Linked DNA regions of Homo sapiens: region 1 is linked to region 2. Evidence: fine-mapped expression QTL. A gene starts in region 2. The other region holds a variant in brackets. All regions are shown on one strand. Distances are between the middles of the regions. Region 1 has its middle 11 kb from the start of SYVN1. Region 2 holds the start of CAPN1-AS1 (CAPN1 antisense RNA 1).

Region 1 (9,699 bases), 35 kb after region 2:
TGGCTGACTTTCTTAGCCTCTTCGAACATCTGTTTTCTTTTCTTATTTTTCTTCCTTTCTGTAACCTCAAGAATATCTGTTTTCTCAGTAATAAAATGACTAGTTGCCATGGGGATGAGAAAATGGACCTGTTACAAAGCGCGGGGGTTGAGAGAAGGGCCATGGGGCCACCCTGTCTGGGCTTAAGTCTTTTTTTTTTTTTTTTTTGAGAAGGAATCTCGCTCCGTCACCCAGGCTGGAGTGCAGTAGCGCAGTCTTGGCTCACTGCAACCTCCGTCTCCTGGATTCAAGCAATTCTCATGCCTCAGCCTTCCGAGTAGCTGGGACTACAGGCACCCACCCCCAATGCCTGGCTAATTTTTGTATTTTTAGTAGAGATGGGATTTCACCATGTTGCCCAGGCTGGTCTCGAACTCCCGACCTCAGGTGATCCCCCCACCCTTGCCCTCTCAAAGTGCCGGGATTACAGGCGTGAGGCACCGCACCCGACCTGGGCTTAAATCTTGACTTTGTCTTTCCCTATTAGTTGGGCAAACCTCAGGCAAGTTACTTAATCTCTCTGAGCCTCAGTTTCTTCATCTATGAAACCGATATGATAATAGTACCTGACTCAGGATTGACATAAAGGTTAAAACTGTAACTGCCCAACATTTATTATTCTCAGCCCTGCCCTGAAGGATGTCACAGACACAGAAGTGATTACAATGCAGGGTCATAGGGGCTGTGTTCACACAGGGACAAATGCTGTAGGCACCATGTGGTGGGGAGAGACTCACTCAGGTTCATGGCTGATGCTGGAAATGTGTAAGGGTGTGCACTAAGAATTTTCCAGACAAAGAAGAAAGGGAAAAGCATGCTACTTTATATAGGTTTGAGCAAAAGTGAAGATAGCTAGGCTGAAGAGGCAAGCAGAGTTTGGGGAATGAGACAAGTTAAGTTTGACCACAATACAAAGTGCATGATGAGGGCCGGGTAAGGTGGCTCATGCCTGTAGTCCCAGACTTTGGGAGGCTGAGGTGGGTGGATCACCTGAGGTCAGGAGTTCGAGACCAGCCTGGCCAACATATGAAATCCCATCTCTACTAAAAATACAAAAATTAACTGGGCATGGTGGCAGGTGCCTGTAATCCCAGCTACTCAGGAGGCTGAGGCAGGAGAATTGCTTAAACCCAGGAGGCGGAAGTTGTTGTAAGTCGAGATCACACCACTGCACTCTAGCGTGGTCGACAAGAGTGAGACTCCGTCTCAAAAATAAATAAATAACAAAGTGCATGATGAGGATTTGGTGGGGTTAGGAGGCAGGCTGGAAGCATATCATGCAGAAATCCAAATGCCCCCTTAGAAAGGCCTTTGTCAGATTAGCAAGCTCACACTTGTCACTGAGCATCTGTCTCAGCCTTCTCCCAGCTGGCTGCCTGGACCACAGAGGCTGGAACGGTAAAAAAAAAAAAAAAAAAAAAAAAAAAAAAAAAAAAAAAACCACACAAAACTTGAGTTACATATATTCCTTCTGGTTTTTTTTTTTTTTTTAAAAGACTGAGTTTCACTCTTGCTCCCCAGGCTGGGGTGCAGTGGTGTGATCTCGGCTCACTGCAATCTCTGTCTCCTGGGTTCAAGTGATTCTCCTGCCTCAGCCCCCCAAGTAGCTGGGATTACAGGCATGTGCCACCATGCCTGGCTAGTTTTTTATTTTTAGTAAAGATGGGGTTTCTTCATGTTGGTCAGGCTGGTCTTGAACTCCCGACTTCAGGTGATCCGCCCCCTTGGCCTCCCAAAGTGCAGGGATTATAGGTGAGAGCAACCGCACCCAGCCTCCTTCCACAGTTTCAATCATGTGAGACTTACATTTGGAACTAAGTGGAGTCGAGGGAGACAGGTAGCAGCCCTCGGGCACTCCTTCTGCTGGTGTGGTTCCAGCAGGGATAGTAAGGCTGGGCCCACTGCACTGTGGAGCTTTCCAGATTCTGGGCTTGCAGTTAGTGTCTCACCTGAGCAGCTGAGTATGCACTGCCTGTGACAATGCCACTCCAAGTAGATCTGCCAGGGACCCTTCCCAGGAAATTATTTATAACAATTCCAGCAGAGATGGCTTCTCATCCTCCTTGAAGCTACTGGACTCTGAGCCCCTGATTCTGCCACAGCTCATCACTCTAGACCTGTCAGGCTTAACACAATTCACTTATCCAACCATTCAATCATCCATCATCCACTTAGCCAATCCAGTCTTTTTTTTTTTTTTTTTTTTTTTTTTTTTTTTTTTTTTTTTTTTTTTTTGAGACAGAGTCTAACTCTGTCAGCCAGGCTGGAGTGCAGTGGCGCTATCTTGGCTCACTGCAACCTCGACTTCCTGGGTTCAAGTGATTCTTCTGCCTCAGCCTCCTGAGTAGCTGGGATTACAGGCACGCATCACCATACCTGGCTAATTTTTATATTTCTAGTAGATATGGGGTTTCATCCTGTTGGCCAGGCTGGTCTTGAACTCCTGACCTCACTCAGATGATCCACCTGCCTCGGCCTCCCAAAGTGCTGGGATTACAGGCGTGAGCCACCACGCTCAGCCCAATCATTTGTTGACTCACTTCTTCAACACTCCCTGAGTTCTTATTCTGTGGCAGGCCCTGGGTCTGGGGCCAAGAACAGGGAGTCAAATTAGATTAGGGCTGTGAAACAAGCCACTCTCAAACCTAGAGGCTTATGACAATACCAATCATTTATTTTCTTACCATTATGCAATTTGGGCAAGGCCTGGTTGAGACAGCTCTTCTTGTGCCTCCAGCTCCATCCTTGGAGCTGGAGGACCCTTCAAAGATGGTGCACTCCAATGGCTGGCAAGTTGATGCTGGCTAGAGCTATTTATTTATTTATTTATTTATTTATTTATTTATTTATTTAAATTCCCCCAGCCAATTGGATGGTAGGGCTAGAGCTTTTTATTCCCTATTTTTTTCATTTTTAAACTTTATCTCCCTTTAGGGGTACACTGTTCCTGGAGGTACTGCAATGCTAGGTAAATGTGTGGAGTGGGTGGGGCAAGCTCCTATTCCATCTCTTAGTTCCAAAAATCTATTTAATATAGATTGTGTCCTCGAATAGAGGACATATCAGATATTAAACTGATAAGAACAGATACTACACTTGATCTTACCCAAAAGGCTGAGAATGGAGCTTTGATTCTCCTCTACATGGGCCTCCCCACAGGACTGCTTGGGCTTCCTCACAGCATGGTGGCTGAATTCCAAGAGAAGAAAACAGAAGCTGCCAGTTCTGTTTTAAAGGGTAAGCCCAGAATTGGGCACAGCTTCATTTCCACCATATTCTACTGGTTCAAAGCAAGTCATAGGCCAAGTCCAGAATTAAGGGGGTGGAGAAGTAAACCCCACCTTTCCATGAGGGACGGGATAAGGAATTTATGAGCATTTATAATCCACAAACCTAACTAGGAGTGCAGTTTCATGCTGCTTGGATTGAGGAATTGACTGGTTGGATAACTGACTGGGTTTGATTAACACAAACTAAGGATTATTTCTCATTATATCTGTTTCCACATGGTGGACCTTTTCTGGAGTAACTAACACTGCAGAAAAGTGGCCTTGTCCCACTTTCTCTCACTCACCCCTCCCAAGAAGTAGAAAAGAGAGTTTTCTTGGTGAAGTTGTTAGAAGCAACTATGTATGGGACCCAAAGTGAGGTAGGAGGCAGGTCTCAATTCTGGAGGTGGGGCTGGGACACCAGACCAAATTGAGGACTTGCTAAAACAGGGATGGGGTGGAGGCAGCTTTCCATAAGACACACCCACCAGTGTGCCATGTCAGTTTACCATTGCCATGGTAACACCTGGAAGTTACTGCCTCTTTCTGTGTTAATGACCAAACGACTCAGAAGTTACCACCTTATTTTTAGAAATTTCTGCATAATCTTCTCCTTAATTTGCATATAATTAAAAGTGGGTATAAATATGACTGCAGAACTACCTCTGAGCTGCTACTCGGGGTAGCCCTGGTGTGCAAGGAACAGTACATCTGCTGCTGCTGTGCACTGCCACTTCACTAAAAGTGTCTGTCTAACAGCACTGGCTCACCCTGGAATTATTTCCTGGACAAAGCCAAGAACCCTCCCGGGCTAAGCCCCAATTTGGGGGCTTGCCTACCCTACATCAAAAGAAGGAGAAACCTTTGGGAGCAGAGTGGGTAAGTCTGTGCAGCTCTGGGACGGGTACAGGGACTTCAAATGCATTTTCTCAACAACTCTATTGGTTACAGAAGTAACATTTTTATCTCTATCCTATGTGTCTGTTTTTCAGATGGTACTAAACTTGGTCAGGGAAAGACAGGGTGTTACATTGTATGCCCTGTAAAAACCCTTGCTCTAAATCTGTCACATACTTGGCACTCAAGAAAAACATGTTAAATGTTAACTAAAAGAATGTTGACATCAGGTGTGAGAGGTTTTCTTCTTCTTCCTTTTTTTTTTTTT[G/TG]AGATGGAGTCTCGCTCTGTCGCCCAGGCTGGAGTGCAATGGTGCAATCTCGGCTCACTGCAACCTCCACATCCTGGGTTCAAGCTATTCTCCTGCTTCAGCCTGCCAAGTAGCTGGGACTACAGGCCGGCACCACCATGCCCAGCTAATTTTTGTATTTTTAGTGGAGACGGGGTTTCACCATGTTGGCCAGGGTGGTCTCGATCTCCTGACCTCGTGATCCGCCCGCTTCAGCCTCCCAAAGTGCTGGGATTACAGGAATGAGCCACCGCGCCCAGCCGGGAGATTCTTCAAGCAGTCATTATATCAACAGACACAGATGTTTCCCTTTCTTCATATGACGAAGCTCAGGGATCCAAACTTATTCGTAAAGCTAAAGAGACACCATTGGTACCCGTTGGAATAGCAGGTTTTGCAGCACTTGTTACATATGGATTATACAAATTGAAGAGCAGGGGAAATACGCAAATGTCCCTTCATCTGATCCACATGCGTGTGGCAGCCCAAGGCTTTGTTGTAGGAGCAATGACTATTGGTATGGGCTATTCCATGTATCGAGAATTCTGGGCAAAACCTAAGCCCTAGAAGAAGAGATGCTGTCTTGGTCTTGTTGGAGGAGCTTGCTTTAGTTAGACATCTCATTATTGAAGTTATGTGTTATTGTGGAAAATAAACTATTTGAGTGGGTTTAGATGGTAACACAGCATTTTGAATATTGGCTTCCTTTCTTGCAGGCTTGATTTGCCTGGTGACTTAATTACTAGTGACTAGTTTACTAACTAGGTCATTCAAGGAAATCAAGTTAGCATAAAAGAAACATGTCACCTAAATGCACTAGATGGTGTTGAAATGTCCACCTTCTTCAATTGTGAAGATGAACTTAAGTTCTAAAGGATATAACAAGCCAACCCTGAAGTACTCCCAGTTTGCTGCAGGATCTCACATGTTTCGGATGTTATATAAGAGTCCTATTTGCCCTAGTTAATTTAACTTTTTTTCTGCCTGTCTTGTGGACTGGCTGGCTCTTTCAGAACTCTGTCTAAAAAGTGCATGGAATAAAACTTGTAAAGCTTCCCACAACTGACAGTATCTATGTGTGTGTGTTTAAACCAAATCTAGAAAGCTTACATTATAGCTGCATAGTAGTGGTATTTATTAAAGAATCACAGTTGTGAACATGAGAATAACTTATGGATTCTAGTTTAGTTATTTTGTAATTGCAGAATTATATTTTTGCTGCTGTTATATCTGAATAATTTTTAAATGTCATCTTGAGATAGAAATATGTATTTAAGCACTCATGCAAAGGTAAATGAGCACCTTTTATTTTATTTTTTTTGAGACGGAGTCACGCTCTGTCACCAGGCTGGAGTGCAGTGGTGTGATCTCAGCTCACTGCAACCTCCATCTCCCGGGTTCAAGCACTTCTCCTGTCTCAGCCTCCTGAGTAGCTGGGACTACAGGTGCACACCACCATCCTTGGCTAATTTTTATATTTTTAATAAAGACAGGGTTTCGCCATGTTGTCCAGGATGGTCTCGATCTTGACCTCGTGATCCGCTGGGCCTCAGCCACTCAAAGTGCTGGGATTACGGGCATGAGCTACCGTGCCCAGCCCAATGAGCACTTTTTAAATGTGTGCATTGCTTATTTTTTCCATAAGAATTACAAACATTAAACTAATCAAATTACCTATAATGGAATTGATTAATGACTTATGAGCAAGCTGGTTTGGCCAGACAGTATACCCAAACTTTTATAAACTATAGAATGTTATTACATTTGTGAAATTTTCTTGTCTAACCTGAATTTACATTTCATGGTGATAACATGGTATATGTACTGTTGTTAAAGTAAGTGACCATCTCAAAAAAAAAAAAAAAAAAGAACGTCAACATCAATTCTGACAGGACAGGAATTTGGACAATGTAGCTTTTACTCATTCATTCTTCCACTAATGCATTCATTCAGCAGACAGTCAAATAACCTGCAATTAGCTTGTGGATCTCTCTACCATGAGACTGAAAGCTCCATGAGGTCAGGGAATGTATTTTGTTCTCCACAATGTCCTCAGAACCTGGCCTGGGGCCTGAACACAGTAGGCCCTCAGTAAATGTTTGTTAATTAAAGGAATGAGATCAGAGGCAAGGGAAGTCCAAAGGCAGTCTAGATAGACCAACAAACTGACCTCATGTGTGGTCAGTCCCACATTCAATGCACACTTCTTGGTGAGGGGGTCATTCAGGGAAAGTTGGAGGGTCTGGCCTTCCAGGCTGGGAGTACCTGGAGTGTTCCACCATGGAAGAGAGAGAATAGTTCCTCATTTTCTCTTTCATGGAGGGAGAATGTGAGAATCCAGATGTTGTTGTCAAAAATGTTGAAAAACTTTTAAGCCGAACGCAGCAGCTCATGACTGTAATCTCAACACTTTGCAAGGCCAAGGCAGGTGGATCGCGTGAGCCAAGGAGTTTGAGACCAGCCAGGGTAACATGGCAAAACCCCATATCTACAAAAAATACAAAAATTAGCCAGGCACAGTGGCGCATGCCTGTAGTCCCAGCTACTCTGCAGGGCTGAGGTGGGAAGATCACTTGAACCCAGGAGTTTGAGGCTGCAGCGAGCCCTGATCATGCCACTGCATTCCAGCAGCTTGGGTGATAGAGCAAGACACTGTCTCAAAAAAAAAAAAAAAAAAAAGCCTGGGCATGGTGGCTCACACCTGTAATCCCAGCACTTTGGGAGGCCGAGGCGGGTGGATCACGAGGTCAAGAGATGGAGACCATCCTGGCCAACATGGTGACCATCCTGGCCAACATGGTGAAACCCTGTCTCTACTAAAAATACAAAAAATTAGCTGTGTGTGGTGGCAGGCGCCTGTAGTCCCAGCTACTTGGGAGGCTGAGGCAGGAGAATCGCTTGAACCCAGGAGGTGGAGGTTACAGTGAGCCGAGGTCACGCCACTGTACTCCAGCCTGGGCGGCAGAGCAAGACTCCATCTCAAAAATAAAATAAAATTTTAAAATACTTATCAATTCATGTTTTCTGTTGTGTCTTAGGTCAGTTTTAGTGCATCTTTTATTTTCTAGGAAATTGTCTATTTCTCCTAAATTTTCAAATTTATTGCCATAAAATTGCACCTACTGCATGCTCATTATTTTTAAATTTCTGCTGTGTCTGTTTATTGCTGTTTTCATTCATTATATTGTCTGCTTGTGCAAACCTTATTTTCTTGACCAGTCTCTCTGGAGATTTGTCATTCTTATTAGTTTATTCAAAGAGCCAGCTTTCAACTTTGTGTATTCTATTTTAGCTTTATCTATTTTCTTTTTTCTTTTCTTTTTTTTTTTTTTAGACAGAGTCTCGCATTGTTGCCCAGGCTGGAGTACAATGGCGCGATCTCAGGTCACTGCAACCTCTGCCTCCCAGATTCAAGTGATTCTCCTGCCTCAGCCTTCCAAGTAGATGGGATTACAGGTGCCCCCCCACCACGCCCAGCTAATTTTTTGTATTTTTAGTAGAGACAGGGTTTCACCATGTTGGCCAGGCTCTTCTCAAACTCCTGATCTCATGATTCGCCTGCCTCAGGCTCCTAAAGTGCTGGGATTACAGGCGTGAGCCATTGCGCCTGTCCTCTATTTTCTTAATTTCTATTTTGTCTTTGTTACTTCCTTACCTATTTTATTGATGTAATTAACATACCACAATTCATTATTTTAAAGTGTACAATTCAGCCAGGTGTGGTGGCTCACATTTGAATCCCAGCATTTTGGGAGGTTGAGGCGGAAGGATCACTTGAGGTCAGGAGTTCAAAACCAGCCTGGGCAACAGAGTGAGACTCTGTCTCTACTAAAAATAAAAAAGTTAGCCAGGCATGATGGCATTTGCCTGTAATGTCAGCCACTTGGGAGGCTGAGGTGGCAGGATCACTTGACCCCAGGAGTTCCAGGCTGCAGTGAGCCATGATCGCGCCACTGCACTACAGCTTTCGCAACAGAGCGAGACTGTGTCTCAAAATAAATAAAGTGTACAATTCGGTCATTTTTAGTATACTCACAAAATTGTGCAAGCATAGCCACTATCTCCTCAGGAACATTTTTATCACTCCTCAAATAATAAACCCCATACCAATTAGCAGTCAGGCCCCATTCCTCACGCCACCAGCCCTTGGCAACCACTAACTACTTCTGTCTGTATGGACTTGTCTATTCTGGACATGTAACGTAAGTGCAGTGATATGAATGCTTTTTTCACTGAGCACAGGGTTTTCAAGGTTCATCAATGTTGTAGCATGAAGCAGTACTTCCTTCCTGTTTATGGCTAAATAATACTCCATTGTGTGGGTACATTACATTTTGTTTAGCCATTCATGGACATTTGGGTTGTTTGTACTTTTTGGCTATTATGAATAATGCTGCTACGAATGTTCTTGTACAAGTGTTTGTATGACCAGATGCTTTCAGTTCTCTTGAACATATACCTAGAAGTAGAATTTCTGGGTCATATGGTAATTTTATGTTTAATTTACTGAAGAACTGCCAAACTGTTTTCCAAAGCATTTACACTATTTTACATTCCCACCAGAAACACATAAGGGTGCCAATTTCTCCACATCTTGCCAACACTTGTTATTGTTGGTCTTTTTTTTATCACAATGATTTTAGTGGGTATGAAATCATCTCTCTATGGTTTTGATTTACATCTCCATAATGACCAGTGATGTTTAACATATTTTTTTGTGCTTATTAACCATTTTCTTTTCTTTTTCTTTCTTTTAGAGATAGGGTCTCTCTCTGTCACTCTGGCTGGAGTGCAGTGGCATGATCTTAGGATCATAGCTCACTGCAGCCTTGAACTCCTGGGCTTGAGCAATCCTCCCACCACAGCCTCTTGAGTAGCTGAGACTACAGCCACCACACCTGGATAATTTATTTTTTGTAGGAGGGGGGTCTCACTATGTTGCCAAGGCTGAGAGGATTGCTTGAGCTCAGGAGTTGGAGACCAGCCTGCGCAACATGGCAAGACTCTGACTCTACAAAAAATACAGTAAACAAACGAACAAATAAAAATTTAAAAGACAGACCTAACCATTCTCTCCCTAATGGATATGTGGTTCTATTGTCTTGTTTCACTATTTCAAACAATGCTGTGGCAATCATCCTTGGACTTAAAATCTTTGGGGTCATGTACAAGCTCTTCAACAAGATAGATTCCTGAAAGGGGAAAATC
Region 2 (9,699 bases):
TTTCTCTAAGGCCTTCCCTTGTCAGACTGAGAGCCTGACACCCTTTAAAGGTCTGAACGAAACAATTACCATCTATTCCCTCTGAGGGCTGCTACCTGTGAGGTTTCATCTACATAACAAGACTGCCTTTGCTACCCAGGCCCCCTTTTCTCCCCCTTCCATAGTCTGTCTTGCCACTATAACCTGATTTACCACCAGAAACTGGTTTTGGCCATGTTCGAGCCCCCATTCTTCCTGTAACCTCAGGATGGTATATAGGCTTCTGTACCCATTGTGGGGCTGGGGTGAACACTCTGTGGTTCCCGACCCCACGCTGCAGGCTAATCAATTTGTATGCCATTTCTCCTACTAACCTCCTTTTGTGAGTTGATTTTTCAGTGAACCTTCAGAGGGCTAAGGGGATGCTTTCCTTTGCCTGTACAATGTATACTAGATACCTGCATATTTGCTGTATACTAATACATGCATACCACATATAGACATGTGTATACTTGATATGTACATGTATGCTCGAGACATACTAGCTACATGATCCTGGAAAAGTTATCGCCTCTGAGCCTCAGTTTCCCTATCCATAAAAAGGAGCAGCGGTGCCTTCTTCACGGAAGACTTAAACAAGAGCACAGGCAAAGCCTTTAGGGAGTCACTGAACAAACAGGGTTCCTCCTCAGGCACGGAGAGGTGGAAAAGCTCTGGGGCCTGGGCTTTCCGGAACTAGCCCCCTTTTAGGCCATGGCCCCCTGGCTCTTCCCTCCCTATTCAAGGGGGTTAGGGGCACCTGTGTCATTGGATGAGCAGTGAAAATGTGGCATCCAGATCCTACAACCACAAGATGGGCAGGACTGGTTCTCACAATCACGGGCTTTGTTTCTGAGATGCCACAAAGGCCACGTTTCCCAGGGCAGGGTCGGGGCCGAAGGCGTCTGGGGTCAGAAGCGACCAAGGACTCGAGGTACCATCTGAGGGGTCGGGGCCAGGACAACGGGGGGCGGGGCGGGGTGGAGGCGGCCCTAGGAGCCCAGGTTGCGGAGAGTGTGGGTGGCGGGTACTGAACTGGCCAATCGGAGGCCAGGGAGGAGCGGATTGGAGGAGCGAGGGAAGGGGGCGAGACTGCGCCCCTGCAGACTGGAGCAGGTGGGTGTGGCGCTGGGCCAAAGTGGATCCGCACTGTGGGTTCCGCACCCTGGGTTCCGAGGGCCACCTCCACCCGCGCAAGGCGGGCAAGGACAGAGTAGGGTAAGGGGCTCTCTAACCAGGCAGAAGGAGGGAACACCCAAGAGTCCTTCGGGCAGGGCTGGGGCCTCCAAGGCTGGAGAGTCTCATCCAGGGTTGCTGGGCATGTCCCTCCCAAAGGCAGCTCATTGAGAATTGATTGGTGTGACTTGAAAAATGGGCCCTGGGCACACCGTCAGGAAAAGCTGGTTTACGTAGACTTAATCCCGAGTCTTTCTTTTCTGCTGGGCTCAGTCAGACCTTGCCAAAGCGCAGGAGGAGTTGGGGGATAGGAGGCTTGACACGTGGAGAAGGCCACACGTGCTGATCTGTTTTCCCCAGCGAACACTCCTTTCTCAGATGGGGCAACTGAGACCGACCTCCGGGAGGAGTGGAATTTGTCCCACAGGATATAACACAAAAGTCTTTCTGTTCTTTCAAGCACTTTCCACCTGATACATACAACCACCTAGGAAAACTGCCAGCCGAAATACCTGCCCAGCCCAGTCACTTCACACATGACAGACCCGAGATGGCACTGAGAGGTCAAATACCTGCTAGAGGGAGGGCTGGCCCCACAGGGTGTGGCCCTAACTGCAGGTATTGTGGGTCATCCTTCCGCATCTCCCCCAGTGCCTGCTGCCCCTCCTCCCCAGGGGAGCCCTCACCTGGAAATGGAAGATGCCGGCATAGCCATTCTGGAAGCTCTGGCCGTGCGGAACCACTCGGTGCAGGAGGGTGTCGTTGAGAGTGAGGGAGGCGATGGCCGCCAAGAGCCAGCAGTCCCCTGGGGCAGGAGGGATGCACATTAGCCTGCTCTACCAACCTGCCCCGGGGGGGGAAGCGGGTGCTAGGGAGAATCTGGGGTTCCTTGGCCAGGGTGCCACTTAACTCCCCTCAGCTTGCAGAAAAGACCCAGGAATCTGGGCAAACCAGCCCCAGCGCTGATAGCCAGATCCTGCCTGGGCTTGCAAGAGGGAGGGGTTGGGGCAGAGCCTGAAGGAGCGGGAATGGGGAACTACTGTGGAAAAAATACCCGGGACCCGACGCCCTGGGGGCCTACCCAGTGCTCCCTGGCAGATGTCTGTGCGGGTAGCTCCATCCACAATGAACTGGGGGTTTGACAGCAGTTCCTACGAGAGACCCAGAGTCCTGTTCCTCGGCCAGCCCCTCCCAGAAATTGGCACCAGGCCACCCCAGACCCCATTCCCCACCAGGGACATGGAGTCCCATCCCTACTCCTCATCCAGGATCTGGCTTAGCCGAGTCCCACCCAGGATGGCCCCTCTCACCGTGGGACGCTTCCACTTGATGCCATAGGTCTTGGAGGAATTGGGACCCAGGTCCTTGTAACCCAGGCTCTGGGGTACCGGGGGGAAGGCCTCATCACGGAAGAGGGTCCCACTCTGCAGGCATCGCACCCGCAGCTGCTCATAATCCTGGCCCAGGTACTTGATGGCATTCTCATGGCGGCCCAGGCCCAGCTCCCTGGCCCGCTGCTTCTGCACTTGGGCTGACACCCCAGTGCAGTACACCGGCGTGATGATCTCCTCCGACATCCTGCCGGACAGATGGGCCTGCTCAGAACCCAGGCCTTCCCAAGACTAGAACCTGGGCTCCTGCCTGCAAGCTCTGCTCTCCTGCCCCTGCTTATCCATCCCCAAACCTAGGGTTTCCCTGCCTCACTGCTCCCCTCACAGAAGTAGGGTTCTCAGCCACCTCCCGGTGCTCCCAGTGAATCCAGGAAAGGGATTTCCCAGTTCCCAGGCGTGCCGGCCACCTCTCCTTTCCCGGATCCCATTGTCAGGGGCTTGCAGCTCTGTAGTGAGCCAGCAGGTCAGGTGGGGCAGGGCGGAGCCTCCAGACAGCACAAGGAACTGGGCAGGTGGGACACAGCAGGGAAGGCCTCTTTGATCCTGTTCACAGGCCTGCAACCCCCTCCCCAAACTAACCAAGCTCCTGGTGCACCGGCCCCTTGCCGTGGGCTGAAAACCCCAGACGGTCGGGGTCCCCCTCCTCAGGCCCCCGCAGCAGGCTCGATATCAGAGCTGGTGGGCCCTAGCCCAGCCCCTGGGGACAGCGGTGAGCCAGGCTGGGACAGGCGCCTGGGCTGTGCCGCTCCGCCAGCCCCCACCCCTGCTCCAGGAACGCAGAGGCCCCCGAGAAGGGACCGTGCTGGGGCAGCCCCTCAGCCCAGGAGCAGTGGCCAGGGTCAAGGAATCCCGGCTCGGCTACCCAGCTTCTTACCTGGGGGAGGGGTGTTTGGGGGTCGCTGCAGTCCCTGAGGCTGGCTTCCCGGTGGCAGCTCAGGGCAGGGCCCAACCAGGAAGAGCGCTCCTCCCCGCCCTCCTCCCGCCGCCCCTCCGCCCTCCGCCCTCCCTCTCTCCTTCTCCTCCTCCTCCTCCTGGGGCTCCTACCCCGCTTCCTCTCGGCTCTCCCTTATCTCTCCGGCACGGTCTCTGACTATCTCTTACTCACGGTGTCTCCCCGCCCCTCCCTCCGCAGGCCGGGGGCCAATTCCGCGAGAGGACAAATTAGTAAAAGGCAGAGCAGTCCCCGGGGAGGGGCCAGCGCGGGGGGGGATGGGGGGGCTGGGGCGCGGCGGAAGGGCACCGCGGGGAACGGAGGGGGAGGGCCGGGCAGGGGGTATTTTTAACCAGGGGCAGCAGCTCGAGTTGCAGGGCCGGACGGCCGCACCCCACGCGCGCCCTGGCGGGCATTCCGGGGCGATTGTGCGGCGGCGCCGCCTCCCGCAGCCCCGGGCCCGCCCGGTCCCCAGCTCCCCTCGCTCCGCGCGACCGCAGCTGCTCCCGCCGTTCCCAGCCAGCCCCGGCGCGGGGCCGAGATTACCTCGGGCTGCGGCAGCTGCTCTGAGGAGGGGCCGGGCTGGCAGCGAGCAGACCCCTGCCGGACACTCAGCAAACGGCAGCCTCACCCCGCAGGGCCGCGCCACTCCCCTTCCCCACCCCACCGCCGCGTCCCGGCTCAGCGCTCCCCGGGGAACGCAGGGGGACCGGGCTCGCTGCGTGACCTTGGGTAAGTCCCTGCCCCGTTCGGCCCGACTTTCCGCATGCGTGCATCCTATGGGATGGGGTTGGGCAATTGTGGGAGCCCATCTTTCTCTAACGTTCTGGGGTTTCTTGAACCTGGAAACTTAGAGAGGTGGACATCCCTGTTCTCTCCCCCAGGCTCTCAGCCCACCCACCTGGAAGCGCCCATGTGTCACCTTACCCAGGAGAGGGCGGCAGAGGCTGCGAGCAGGACGGCAGCCCCCTCTCCCCACCCCCAGGACCCTGAGATCCTGCTTCACGGGCTGCAAGAAGTTGGGGGGCCAGGATTCGGCGCGGAGGCCGGGGGTGTGGGTGGGGAGACTGCAGAGACTCCCGAGACCCCCCCAAGTCAGGGCTTTTCGCTGGTCTCGCAGCCCCAGCCCAGCAGCTGCTGCAGTCTTGCATGTTGTGGATGCAAGCATTTTGCTGAGGAAACTGCATAGCGTTCCCAGGACTCTAGGGCCCACGACCCCTCAAAAGTTAAGAGCCGCTGATCTAATCTAACCCCACTTTCACCCTCAGTTAACAAAAGAGGAAAACTGAGGCCTGAGAGGGTGTGACTTGCCTGAAATACCTAACCTGGTGAGTGATGGGTGGAACCAGCTCCTAGGCTTTCTGCGCAGGTGTCCAGGGACAGAGAAGGGTGGTTTAAACTAGAGAGGTGGCAGGCAGAAGTAGATGGATTTGATAACTATTTAGGATACACCATCAAAATTTAACTCAAACTGGATTACACACCTAAATATAAATGGCCAAACCATAAAACTTTTTTTTTTAAAAATGGAGACAATCTTAACAATATTGGGTTTGAAAAGATTTCTTTTTTCTTTTCTAAAGGCAGGGTCTTGCTTTCATTGACCAGGCAGGAGTGCAGTGCCCTGATCACAGCTCACTGTAACTTTAAACTCCTGGGCTCAAGAGATCCTCTCACCTCAGCCTCCTGAGTAGCTGAGACTACAGGCACGTGCCACGACACACAGCTAATTTTTAAATTTTTTGTAGAAATGGGGTCCTGCTGTGTTACTCAGGCTGGTCATGAACTCCTGGGCTCAAGCAGTCCTCCTGCCTGAGCCTCCCAAAGTGCTGGGATTACAGGTGTGAGCTTTGGCACCTGGCCAGATTTCTTAAATATGACACAAAAAGTGTAAATGATAGAAGAAATCAATAAATTGAACTTCATCAAAATAAAACGCTTTTGTTTCTCAAAATGCACGAAACTATTAAAAATGAAAAGATAAGCCATAGACTAGGACGAATATTTGTAAAAATTCTATCTGATGTAGGACTTGTATAAAGAACTTTTACAATTGAATAAAAATCCAATAAAAATGGACAAAACATTTGTTTGTTTTCTGGTGTTTGTTTTTGTTTTTGAGATGGAGTCCCGCTCCATCACCCAGGTTGGAATGCAGTGGCGCGATCCTGGCTCACTGCAACCTCCACCTCCTGGGTTCAAGCAATTCTCCTGCCTCAGCCTCCCCAGTAGCTGGGATTACAGGCGCCCGCCACCACACCAGGCTAATTTTTGTATTTTTAGTAGAGACAGGGTTTCACCATGTTAGCCAAGCTGGTCTCAAACTCCTGACCTCAAGTGATCTGCACGCCTCTGCCTCCCAAGGTGCTGGGATTACAGGGTGAGCCACCGCGCCTGTCAAAAAATGGACAAAACATTTGAACAGACACTTCATCCAAAAAGATCTCTGGATGGCAAATAGGCACATTAAAAAACACTGAGTGCATTACTCTTAGGGAAATGCAAATTAAAGCCACTAGAAGGACTGCTTCTAAAAGAACACCTACTAGAATGGCTAAAAGTTAAGATCAACCATACCAAGTGTTGTTATGTTGTCAAGGATATAGAAGAACTGGAGCTGTCATACACCAAGAGAGGGTAAAATGATCACCACCACTTTGGAAGACAGTTTGGCAATTTCTTTAAAATTTAGCGATACAAAGAAATCAGCCATCAAGCTACAAAAAGACATAGCATAACCTTAAACGCATATTGCTAAGTAAAAGAGGCTGGTATTAAAAAGCTGCATACTGTATGATTCCAATAACTCTATATGACGTTCTAGAAAAGGCAAAACTAGCAATGGTAAAAAGATCAGCAGTTGCCAGGGATTCAGAGGGGTAGGAGAGGGATGGAGCACAGGGCATTTTTAGCACAGCGAAACTATTCTGTATGATACTGTAATGACGGATGCATGACATGCATTTATCCAAACCTGCAGAATGTACAACACTAAGAGTGAACCTTAATGTAAACTATGGACTTGAATTAATAATATTGTGTCAATATTGGTTCATCAGTGATTACAAATATACCACAGGCTGAGCGCAGTGGCTCACCCCTGTAATCCCAGCACTTTAGGAGGCTGAGGTGGGCGGATCACATAAGGTCAGGAGTTCGAGAGACGAGCCTGGCCAATATGGCGAAACCCTGTCTCTACTAAAAAATACAAAAATTAGCTGGACGTGGTGGTGGGCTCCTGTAGTCCCCACTACTAGGGAGGCTGAGGTAGGAGAATCACTTGAACCCAGGAGATGGAGGTTGCAGTGAGCCAAGATCACACCATTGCACTCCAGCCTGGGCGACAAGAGCAAAACTCCGTCTCAAAAAAAAAAAAAAAATAGAACTTAGTCACTGGTTAGATATGGCTCTTGGACACCAGGAGAGACCAAAGACAACTTCAGACCCTGGATCTGGCTTGAGCACCTGAGTAGATTAAAGAGAAGGGGGAATGCACTAAGCTGGAGGGACAGTATGGGATCAGGGTATGGGGTATCTTTGGGATCCCCCTATCCAAGAGGAGATTCCTAGGGGTGAGGAACAGACCTTGTGCTCAAAATAGAGGTACAAATTTGGGAGTCACTAGCCACCAAAAAGCAGAGGCAAGGGGGCTGACACCTTGGTCTTCATATGAAGATGCTTCATATAGATGTCAATTCTCCTTAAATTAATCTCTAAGTGTATCACAATGAAAAATTTTAAGAGTCTTCTGGTGGGAGATAAGGAGGGACTAGAAAAGCTGATTTAAAGGTCATATGGCAAATTAAACAAGTAGGAAACTTCTGAAAATAAAAGACATAATGAGTATAGACTAATCCTACCAGATATTAAAACACAACAAATCTATCATTAAAAGGTAATAATTAAAGAGGGTTACTGACACATAGAGATCAATAGAAGACAGAGAAATTTAGAAACAGATTCAAATACAGGCAGGAATGTAGTAGATGATAAAAGTACCATTTCTAATCTGTTGAGAAAAGATGAGTTAATAAAAGACATTAGGAAGAAAAGGGAGCAATCTGGAAAAAAAGTAAGTTGGATTCATAATTTGTATCTTAGAAAAAATTACAGATGAACTCAATTTATAGGTTTGGAATATGTTGTTCCTAATGAAAAAAACATTTAAAAAGGCTGGGTGTGGTGGCTAACACCTGTAATCCTAGCACTTTGGGAGGCCAAGGTAGATGGATCACCTGAGGTCAGGAGTTCACGACCAGCCCGGCCAATATGGTGAAACCTCGTCTCTACTAAAAATACAAAAAAAAAAAAAAAAAAAGCTGGGCATGGTGGGTGGCAGGCGTTTGTAATCCCAGCTACTCGGGAGGCTGAGGCAGGAGAATTGTTTGAACCCAGGGGGCGGAGGTTGCAGTGAGCCGAGATTGCACCACTTCACTCCAGCCTGAGCAAAAGAGTGAGACTCCGTCTCAAAAAAATAAATAAAAATTTTTTTAAAAATTAAAAAATAAAAACTCTAGGTCTGGTGTGGTATCTCACACCACCTGTAATCCCAGCATTTTCGGAGCCTGAGGTGGGAGGCTCTCTTGAGCCTAGGGGTTCAAGGCCTCAGTGAGCACCGCTGCACTCTAGCCTGGGCAACAAAGCAAGACTCCATCTCTAAAAAATCAATAAAAAATAGGCCAGGCGCGGTGGTTCATGCCTGTAATCCCAGCACTTTGGGAGGCTGAGGCAGGTGGATCACGAGGTCAGGAGATCAAGACCATCCTGGCTAACACGGTGAAACCCCATCTCTACTAAAAATACAAAACGAATTAGCCGGGCGTGGTGGCGGGCGCCTGTAGTCCCAGCCACTTGGGAGGCTGAGGCAGGAGAATGGCGTGAACCCAGGAGGCAGAGCTTGCAGTGAGCCAAGATTGCGCCACTGCACTCCAGCCTCGGCGACAGAGTGAGACAACGTCTCAAAAAAAATAAATAAATAAAAATAAAAATTAAATGTTAACCTTCAATATTTAAACGTACAAAAATGAAAACGAAAATACAGCCAGAAGCTGGCTGGGCACGGTGGCTCATGCCTGTAATCCTAGCACTTTGGGAGGCTGAGGTGGGTGGATCACTTGAGGTCAGGTGTTCAAGACCAGCCTGGCCAACATCGTGAAACCCTATCTCTACTAAATATACAAAAATCAGCTGGGCATGGTGGCACACACCAGCAATCCCAGCTACTTGGGAGACTGAGGCACAAGAATTGCTTGAACCCGGGAGATGGAGGCGGAGGTTGCGGTGAGTGGAGATCGCACCATTGCACTCCAGCCTGGGCAACAAGAGCAAAACTCCATCTCAAAAAAAAAAAAAAAAAAATACAGCCAGGAGCTAAAGGAGAAACTTTTTGTATCATCTCAGTGTGGAAACAGTCTTTTTAACTATGACACAAAACCCAAAAGTCATAAAATTGCATTTTTTACTACATTAAAAATCCATACAGTTATGTCAAAATGATGGACTGAAGAAAACATTTACAATTAACATCTTAAAGGAGTATTTTTCTCCATATACATATATAAAAAATCATGTTCTGGGTGTGGTCGCTCATTCCTATAATCCTAACACTTTGGGAGGCCTAGACAGGAGGATTGATTGAGGCTAGGAGTTTGAGACTAGCCTGGGCAACATAATGAGACCCCATCTATAAAAAAATTAGAAAATTAGCCAGGTGTGGTGGTGCATGCCTGTCATCCCAGCTACTCCAGAGGCTGAGATGGGAGGGTGGCTTGAGCCCAGCAGTTGGAGGCTGCAGTGAGCTATGATTGTGCCACTTCCCTCCAGCCTGGGCAATAGAGCAAGATGCTGTCTCTAAGAATAAAATAAAAGTAAATCCCAGCACTTTGGGAGGCCAAAGTGGGTGGATCGCTTAAGCCCAGGAGTTCGAGATCAGCCTGGACAATACGGTGAGACCCTGTCTGTACCAAAAATACAAAAAGTTAGCTGGGCATGGTGGCCTGTAGTCCCAGCTATCCCAGAGGTCGAGGCTGCAGTGAGCTGTGATCGCACCACTGTATTCCAGCCTGGATGACAAAGCAAGACCCTGTCTCAAAAAAAAAAAGTTCACAAATAAAAGAAGACAAATAGGTCTTAAACATATGACAAGATGTTGAGCTCACTGAAAAGCAAATGTGAATTAAAATT

What was found.
Region 1: its variant is fine-mapped to the expression of CAPN1-AS1 in platelets (CEDAR, PIP 0.95).

What each region holds. Positions count from the first base shown.
Region 1 is chr11:65,141,050-65,150,748 of GRCh38, reverse strand. It overlaps the pseudogene HIGD1AP10 and the pseudogene RNU2-23P. Among named protein-coding and RNA genes, the nearest start is that of SYVN1, 11 kb to the right of the region's middle. The variant G/TG (reference allele first, on the strand shown) is at 4,474.
Region 2 is chr11:65,175,774-65,185,472 of GRCh38, reverse strand. It overlaps CAPN1-AS1 (CAPN1 antisense RNA 1), which reads left to right and starts at 3,639. Exons shown (of 2, transcript NR_145677.1): 1 at 3,639-4,248; 2 at 4,401-5,602. It overlaps CAPN1 (calpain 1), which reads right to left and starts at 3,545. Exons shown (of 22, transcript NM_005186.4): 1 at 3,460-3,545; 2 at 2,505-2,772; 3 at 2,276-2,345; 4 at 1,881-1,999. The coding sequence starts at 2,771. RefSeq lists enhancers at 1-306, 1,490-2,279, 2,280-3,068, 3,069-3,858 and silencers at 2,881-3,175, 3,777-4,226.